Homo sapiens: one gene and its partner. The protein of the gene in region 2 purifies or fractionates together with the protein of the main gene of each other region. This does not show direct contact. Each region holds a gene or a part of one and is shown on either strand. Other genes may lie near its edges.

What was found.
Region 1: the proteins of ZNF816 (region 2) and NKTR purify together in Homo sapiens (affinity purification with mass spectrometry; 2 studies listed by BioGRID and IntAct, with this or other methods). This does not show direct contact.

What each region holds. Positions count from the first base shown.
Region 1 is NC_000003.12:42,598,901-42,602,823, reverse strand, and holds the start of NKTR (NK-tumor recognition protein), read right to left. Parts: upstream 2,139-3,923; 5' UTR 2,046-2,138; intron 1,865-2,045; exon of another isoform or gene 1,841-1,864; 5' UTR 1,818-1,840; coding exon 1,760-1,817; exon of another isoform or gene 1,746-1,759; intron 1-1,745. UniProt on the Homo sapiens protein: PPIase that catalyzes the cis-trans isomerization of proline imidic peptide bonds in oligopeptides and may therefore assist protein folding. Component of a putative tumor-recognition complex involved in the function of NK cells.
Region 2 is NC_000019.10:52,949,169-52,953,091, reverse strand, and holds the end of ZNF816 (zinc finger protein 816), read left to right. Parts: intron 1-214; coding exon 215-341; intron 342-1,507; coding exon 1,508-3,273; 3' UTR 3,274-3,707; downstream 3,708-3,923. Other genes in the region: ZNF816-ZNF321P (ZNF816-ZNF321 protein), read left to right, coding at 215-341. UniProt on the Homo sapiens protein: May be involved in transcriptional regulation.

The DNA of each region.
Region 1 (3,923 bases), on a different chromosome or scaffold from region 2:
GCTGGTCTCGAACTCCTGACCTCAAAATGATACACCCGCGTCTGCCTCCCAAAGTGCTGGGATTACAGGCGTGAGCTATTTTTAATTCTTAATAGAAAATAACCCTGTTATCTAAAGCATGGATTCACTACAAAATAAAGATTAAGGTCCATCAAGGCTTTCTAGTAACACTTATTTAAAAAAAAAAAAAAAAAAGATCAATCAAGGCTAAAAACATTAAAAAGAGAGAGAAGGCAACCAAATTTCCAGGATTATCTCATCCCTTTGCTCGAAACCCTTTAATATCTTCCTACCTCACTGAGTCAGTCCTACAGGCCATTTCTTACTATTCTCTTTCCTCTTCTACTCCAGCCACACTGGGCACCCTGCTGTCCCTCAAACATGCAAGTACAGTCCTCCATTGTTTAATAACCAGGACGGATTCTGAGAAATGTGTAATTAGGCAATTTCGTCATTGTGTGAACATCATGGAATGTATTTAAACACACCTAGATGGTACGGCCTACTACACACCTAAGCTATATAGTCTATTTGCTCCTAGGCTACAAACCTGTACAGGATGTTACTCCACTGAATACCGTAGGCAACTTTAACACAATGAAGTATTTGTATATCTAAACACAGCTAAACATTAAAAAGTTACCAAAAAAAGGTATTATATATAAGACCATTGTTAAAGATAGAAATGTCATTTGGCGCCTGACTGTATACTACTCCTCACCTCAGGGCTGTGCTGTTTCCCTCTACCACGAATGCTCTTCTTAAATACGGCTCACTTCATCTCCTTCTGATACCTGCTTAAATCTCATCTTCTCAAAATGGCCTTGTCTGACCAACTTATTAAAATAGTATCCCAACTACAAGTCACTGTTATTTTTTTCCTAGTTGTCCGTCTTCCCCCCAATAGAATATAAACTATAAAAGGAAGAGGCCTTTGTTTTATGCGCTGCTCTATCTCCAGACCCTAGAACAGTAGCAGGCTCTCATAAGAATATGCAGAACAAGATGTTGCACAAAGACAACACATATATATATGTCTCCAATTAAAACTTTTGTCACGGATAACAAAAAAAGCTAAGAAAACAGTTTGAAACCCTGCACGCTCTGCTACTTAGAATGAAATAACTATGCTTTAGAAGGAAATGTTTCATTTAAAAAAAATACACTAACAAATGTCTGGATTCCCTAAAGACAAACATTAATGCTAAGTGCATGCATGCTGCAATTCTGCTGGTACAAAATGCTCTGGTTTATCACAAAAGATCTTCACTAAGCCATTTTCCCAGGAACCACGAAATTCTAGCTAAAGATTCTTAAGGAAAAATAGAGGCAAAATTAACATATTAGTGATATATCGTGATTAGGAAACACACAATATTTCCTACTAGTTGAAACTTCATAGCACCAAGCAAGATAACCGGAAATCGGATCGGGAGTGTCTGCCTCACGGAGACACTGGGAGAGAAAAAGTCCTCAAAGAACTGCACCTCCTTTTCTTGGCGCCAGGCTGGCTACGAGGACTCAGTCCGGAGATGCAGCGGGGTGTGTGGGGTTTGGCAGGAAGAGGCCCGGACTGCGAGTTAGGGGTGTGCCCAGGCCACCTTCCTCTCCCACTGATTTTCTCTCAAGAGAAAACGGAAAGTTGCCTGCGCCTCCTACCCGCTCCCAAAAAGGCCGGGGGAGGGTTGCTGAGGGTAGACCCCTCCCCTTCGCCAAGGCAGGCCTCGGCCCCAGCAGCGCTCCCCAGTTTCCAGCTCACCCGGCTCCCGGTTGATCTCGATGTCGAAGTGGCACTGCGGCCGGTCCTGCGCCCCCATCGCGACCGAGGTGGCGGCAAGAGCTGGGAGAGAGGGGGAGAAAAGCGGTCAGGGCAGGGGCGAGGGCGGGGGCGAGGGCAGGGGCGAGGGCGGGGCTGAGACGAAGTCCGCGCCACGGTGCCTCACGCCGGCCCGTCGCGACAGCGCAGGAGGCCAAGACGAGGCCCCCTCCCGCCCCGGGCCTCGCGGCTCCCACGCAGCGCGCACGCATGCGGGCGAGCTCTTCACCTGGCTGGCCTCCAGCCTGAGCGGGTCCCCGTGAGCAGAAGAGAAAGCACTGCCACTGCAGCCAAACCCCAACGCCGCTAACGGAACGCCGTCTCCTCCCCCAGGCCGGGCCTCCCAATGCCACGCTAAACCCCGCGAGAGTCGGGACAAATACCGCGAGAGTACAGTCTAGATGGGGGTGGTCAACCGAAGGTGGCGGCAGCGGGGGCGTACGCACGGGGGCGTACGCACGGGGGCGTGTCTGGGGAGCTCTCGAGGAGCCTCCAGCCAGCGCTCCTATACCTGCGCGTTCCCTGTTTGCCCCCCCCTTTGAAGTCAGTCGCCCAATCTGAAAGCCGTGGATGCGCCTGCGCCCTCCATCTCGTCAGGTGTGGCTGTGAGCGCCGCGCATTTTCCGATACCGCGAGACTTCTCTGTTTCCGAGCGCTGTGAAGGAACTGAGTGAATTGAGGCTTTGAGTTTTCGTTAGCCAAGACGTTGTGTTGCTCTGTGTTCTTTTTGGCCGGGAGTGGTTATGTCCGTGTCCTACTGTTAGGTCTTTTAGGCTGAAGAATGCGTTCCTTCCCGCTTTGGCACCAGCGTCACTGGCACCGTTTTTGTCCTGTGCTTACTGACCATTCTGCATCTTTTGTGAAGTTTCAGTTCCAGTCTTCTGCCCGTTTTTAAATCTGGTCCTTCGTGTTTAACAGTTCTGGATACAAATGTTTTGTTAGATATATGTATGCTCTGAATGAAAATCTTTTGTTACATAAATGATTGCGAAGTCTTTTTCCCAATCTGGGCCTGTCGTTTCATTGTTTTGACGTTTTTGGCAAAGAAGTTTTTAATTCTGATTAAGTCAATTGGTCAGTTTTATATTTTAATGGTTTGTGCTTTTCCTGTGCTAGGAAATCTCTGCCTACCTCAAGTTCTTGAAGATATTCTGTGTTCTCATATATGTTTTACATAGTCTTTAACGTGTAAGTCTATGATATGATCTAATATCATTAATTTTTGCTTATGTTGTCAAGTAAGTGTCAACATTTTCCTATTGGGATATACAGTCGTTCCATTACCGTTTGTTGAAAAGACTCTTTTTTTTTTTTTTGAGACGGAGTCTCGCTCTGTCGCCCAGGCTGGAGTGCAGTGGCGGGATCTCGGCTCACTGCAAGCTCCGCCTCCCGGGTTCACGCCATTCTCCTGCCTCAGCCTCCCAAGTAGCTGGGACTACAGGCGCCCGCCACTACGCCCGGCTAATTTTTTGTATTTTTAGTAGAGACGGGGTTTCACCGTTTTAGCCGGGATGGTCTCGATCTCCTGACCTCGTGATCCGCCCGCCTCGGCCTCCCAAAGTGCTGGGATTACAGGCGTGAGCCACCGCGCCCGGCCTGAAAAGACTCTTATACATTGAATTACCTTCGCCTTGTGACCATATATGTGTGGGTCTGTTTCTGGATTTTTGTTCCAATGATCTGTGTCTGAGTACCACACTATTTTATAAGTTTTTTTTTTAAACTATAAAATACACATTACATGGGCGGGCGTGGTGGCTCATGCCTGTAATCCCAGCACTTTGGGAGGCCGAGGCAGGCGGATCACGAGGTCAGGAGATCGAGACCATCCTGGCTAACACGGTGAAACCCTTTCTCTACTAAAAATACAAAAAATTAGCCGGGCGTGGTGGCGGTCGCCCGTAGTCCCAGCTACTCGGGAGGCTGAGGCAGAAGAATGGCGTGAACCTGGGAGGCAGAGCTTGCAGTGAGCCGAGATCGGTCCACTGCATTCCAGCCTGGGTGACAGAGCGAGACTCCGTCTCAAACAAAAAAAATCTATCTATAGATCTATAGATCTACAGATATCTAGATATCTATAGATCTATAGATATATATACACATTATG
Region 2 (3,923 bases):
ACTTCCACAGTGACTTAGGGGATTTTAAAAGCTATCATGAAAAAGTACAATAAAATGCAACTATACTGAAAAATTGTTCAAAAATACCTTAACATAAATTTGTCAGAACACAGTCTTGGATCAAATCAATACTTATTTTCTGTTTTCTCATTTCACGTGAGGGCAATAACTCACTCCTCCATAATGTTTTGTTGAAACGTGTTTTTTATTTTAGGGACGCTTGACTTTCAGGGATGTGGCTATAGAGTTCTCTTTGGAGGAGTGGAAATGCCTGAACCCTGCACAGAGGGCTTTATACAGGGCTGTGATGTTGGAGAACTACAGGAACCTGGAGTTTGTGGGTGAGGAAAATGTCCCTCCAGACATGAGGAATCTGCACTTGTCTATCTTGGCTCTTTCTGGTTTTATATTCTCTTTTGTGATTTTGCCCCATACATGCTTTTGATGTACATGTCATTGTTTTCTGCGGTGATGACCCTCCTATCTGTCATGGACAGCTTCTTAGAGACTCTTCTTTGGAGTGGTTTTACATAAAAACAGAAAATTCACGAACACTTTGACTAATACAATTGAACATCATCCTGCTCTAGGAAGAGATGTCCCTGGAAGCCCTGAGCAGAATGGTCAGCATGGCCCAGGATACGAGATAGAAAGCATGACACTGATTGACAAGTGTTTCCAGCTGTGCTTGTGGTTTTGTTTTCTTTTTGTTTGTTTGTTTTCAGACAGAGTCTCCCTCTGTTGAACAGACTGGAGTGCAGAGTCTTGATCTCATCTTATTGCAACCTCTGCATCCTGAGTTCAAGCAATTCTTGTACTTCAGCCTCTCAACCTAACTGGAATTACAGGCACATGCCTCCATACCTGGCAGATTTTCATATTTTTATTAGACATAGGGTATCACCATGTTGGCCAAGTTGGTCTTGAACTCCTGGCCTCAAGCAATTTGCCCACCTCAGCCTCGAAGTGTTGGGATTACAGGCGTGAGCCACCATGCTTGGCCTTTCATTCTGGTTTTTGAGAACCATCACAGAAGCATCTCTCACTAGCACTGTGACAGTGTTCATCACATAAACGAATGGTCATCTTCTCTAAGCAGTAGTCACTGCTGTAGAAATTCCTCTTAGGGAGGACATCATTCAGGCTCACTGCCTCATATATATGAGGCTCTTGACTGAACTCTTTTTTTTTTCTACACAGAATTTTGCTCTTGTTGCCCAGGCTGGAGTGCAATGTGGTGATCTCCGCATGCTGCAACCTCTGCCTCCTGGCTTCAAGCAATTCTGCTGCCTCAGCCTCCTGAGTAGCTGGGATTACAGGCACCCACCACCATGACTGGCTAATTTTTGTATGTTCAGTAGAGACAGTGTGTTCTTAAACTATGAAGATCACATTTGGGAAGTTTAAAATAAGTATTGCTTTTTGTGTAATTTTTACACATCTGAATATCAACTATTATTTACCATCTGTACTTAATTGGAAACCTATTGGTCTTTATATTTTTTAGATAGCTCTTTAAAATCCATGATGGAGTTCTCATCAACCAGGCACAGTATTACAGGAGAAGTGATCCACACAGGGACGTTGCAAAGACATAAAAGTCATCACATTGGAGATTTTTGCTTCCCAGAAATGAAGAAAGATATTCATCACTTTGAGTTTCAGTGGCAAGAAGTTGAAAGAAATGGCCATGAAGCACCCATGACAAAAATCAAAAAGTTGACTGGTAGTACAGACCGAAGTGATCACAGGCATGCTGGAAACAAGCCTATTAAAGATCAGCTTGGATTAAGCTTTCATTCGCATCTGCCTGAACTCCACATGTTTCAGACTAAAGGGAAAATTAGTAACCAATTGGACAAGTCTATCGGTGCTTCCTCAGCTTCAGAATCCCAAAGAATTTCTTGTAGGCTCAAAACTCATATTTCTAATAAGTATGGGAAGAATTTCCTCCATTCTTCATTCACACAAATACAGGAAATATGCATGAGAGAAAAACCTTGCCAAAGTAATGAGTGTGGCAAAGCCTTTAATTATAGCTCACTCTTAAGGAGACACCACATAACCCATTCAAGAGAGAGAGAATATAAATGTGATGTATGTGGCAAGATCTTTAATCAGAAGCAATACATTGTATATCATCATAGATGTCACACTGGTGAGAAAACTTACAAGTGTAATGAGTGTGGGAAGACCTTCACTCAGATGTCATCCCTTGTATGCCATCGTAGACTTCATACTGGAGAGAAACCTTACAAGTGTAATGAGTGTGGCAAGACCTTCAGTGAGAAGTCATCCCTTAGATGCCATCGTAGACTTCATACTGGAGAGAAACCTTACAAGTGTAATGAGTGTGGCAAGACTTTTGGTCGAAATTCAGCCCTTGTAATTCATAAGGCAATTCATACTGGAGAGAAACCTTACAAGTGTAATGAGTGTGGCAAGACCTTCAGTCAGAAATCATCCCTTCAATGCCATCATATACTTCACACTGGAGAGAAACCTTACAAATGTGAAGAATGTGACAATGTTTACATTCGCAGATCACACCTTGAAAGACATAGGAAGATTCATACTGGAGAGGGATCATACAAATGTAAGGTTTGTGACAAGGTTTTCCGGAGTGATTCATACCTTGCAGAACATCAGAGAGTTCATACTGGAGAGAAACCATACAAGTGTAATAAATGTGGCAGGAGTTTCAGTCGGAAGTCATCCCTTCAATACCATCATACACTTCACACTGGAGAGAAACCTTACACATGTAATGAATGTGGCAAGGTTTTTAGTCGAAGAGAAAACCTTGCACGTCATCATAGACTTCATGCTGGAGAGAAACCTTACAAATGTGAAGAATGTGACAAAGTTTTCAGTCGCAGATCACACCTTGAAAGACATAGGAGAATTCATACTGGGGAAAAACCATACAAATGTAAGGTTTGTGACAAGGCTTTCCGGAGTGATTCATGCCTTGCAAACCATACGAGAGTTCATACTGGAGAGAAACCTTACAAGTGTAATAAATGTGCGAAGGTTTTTAATCAAAAAGGAATCCTTGCACAACATCAGAGAGTTCATACTGGAGAGAAACCTTACAAGTGTAATGAATGTGGCAAGGTTTTTAATCAAAAAGCAAGCCTTGCAAAACATCAGAGAGTTCATACTGCAGAGAAACCTTACAAGTGTAATGAGTGTGGCAAAGCCTTTACTGGACAGTCAACACTTATTCACCATCAAGCAATCCATGGGTGTAGGGAAACTTTACAAATGTAATGATTGTCACAAAGTCTTCAGTAATGCTACAACCATTGCAAATCATTACAGAATCCATATTGAAGAGAGATCTACAAGTGTAATAAATGTGGCAAATTTTTCAGACGTCATTCATAACTTGTAGTTCATCAGTGAACTCATACTGGAGAGAAACCTTACAAATATCATGACTGTGACAAGGTCTTCAGTCAAGCTTCATCCTATGCAAAACATAGAATTCATACAGGAGAGAAACCTCACAAGTGTGATGATTGTGGCAAAGCCTTTACTTCATGTTCACACCTCATTAGACATCAGAGAATTCATACTGGACAGATGCCTTACAAATGTAAGGGTGGCAAGGTCTTCACTCTGTGGTCATTCCATGCAGAACATCAGAAAATTCATTTTTGAGATAATTGTTCCAAATAAAATGAATATAAAAAATCATAAAACTTTAATTGACATTAGAGTTGATTCAACATTGACTTGAGTTTGAGTTGACTTAACATTGAGTTCACGCATTAATTGACATAAAAAGTGTTAATGTTAAGAAGAATGGGTCAGGTGCAGTGGCTCATGCCTGTTTTCCCAGTACTTTGGGAGGCCAAGGCAGGTAGATCACTTGAGGTCAGCAGTTTGAGACCAGCCTGGCCAACAGACTTGAGCCA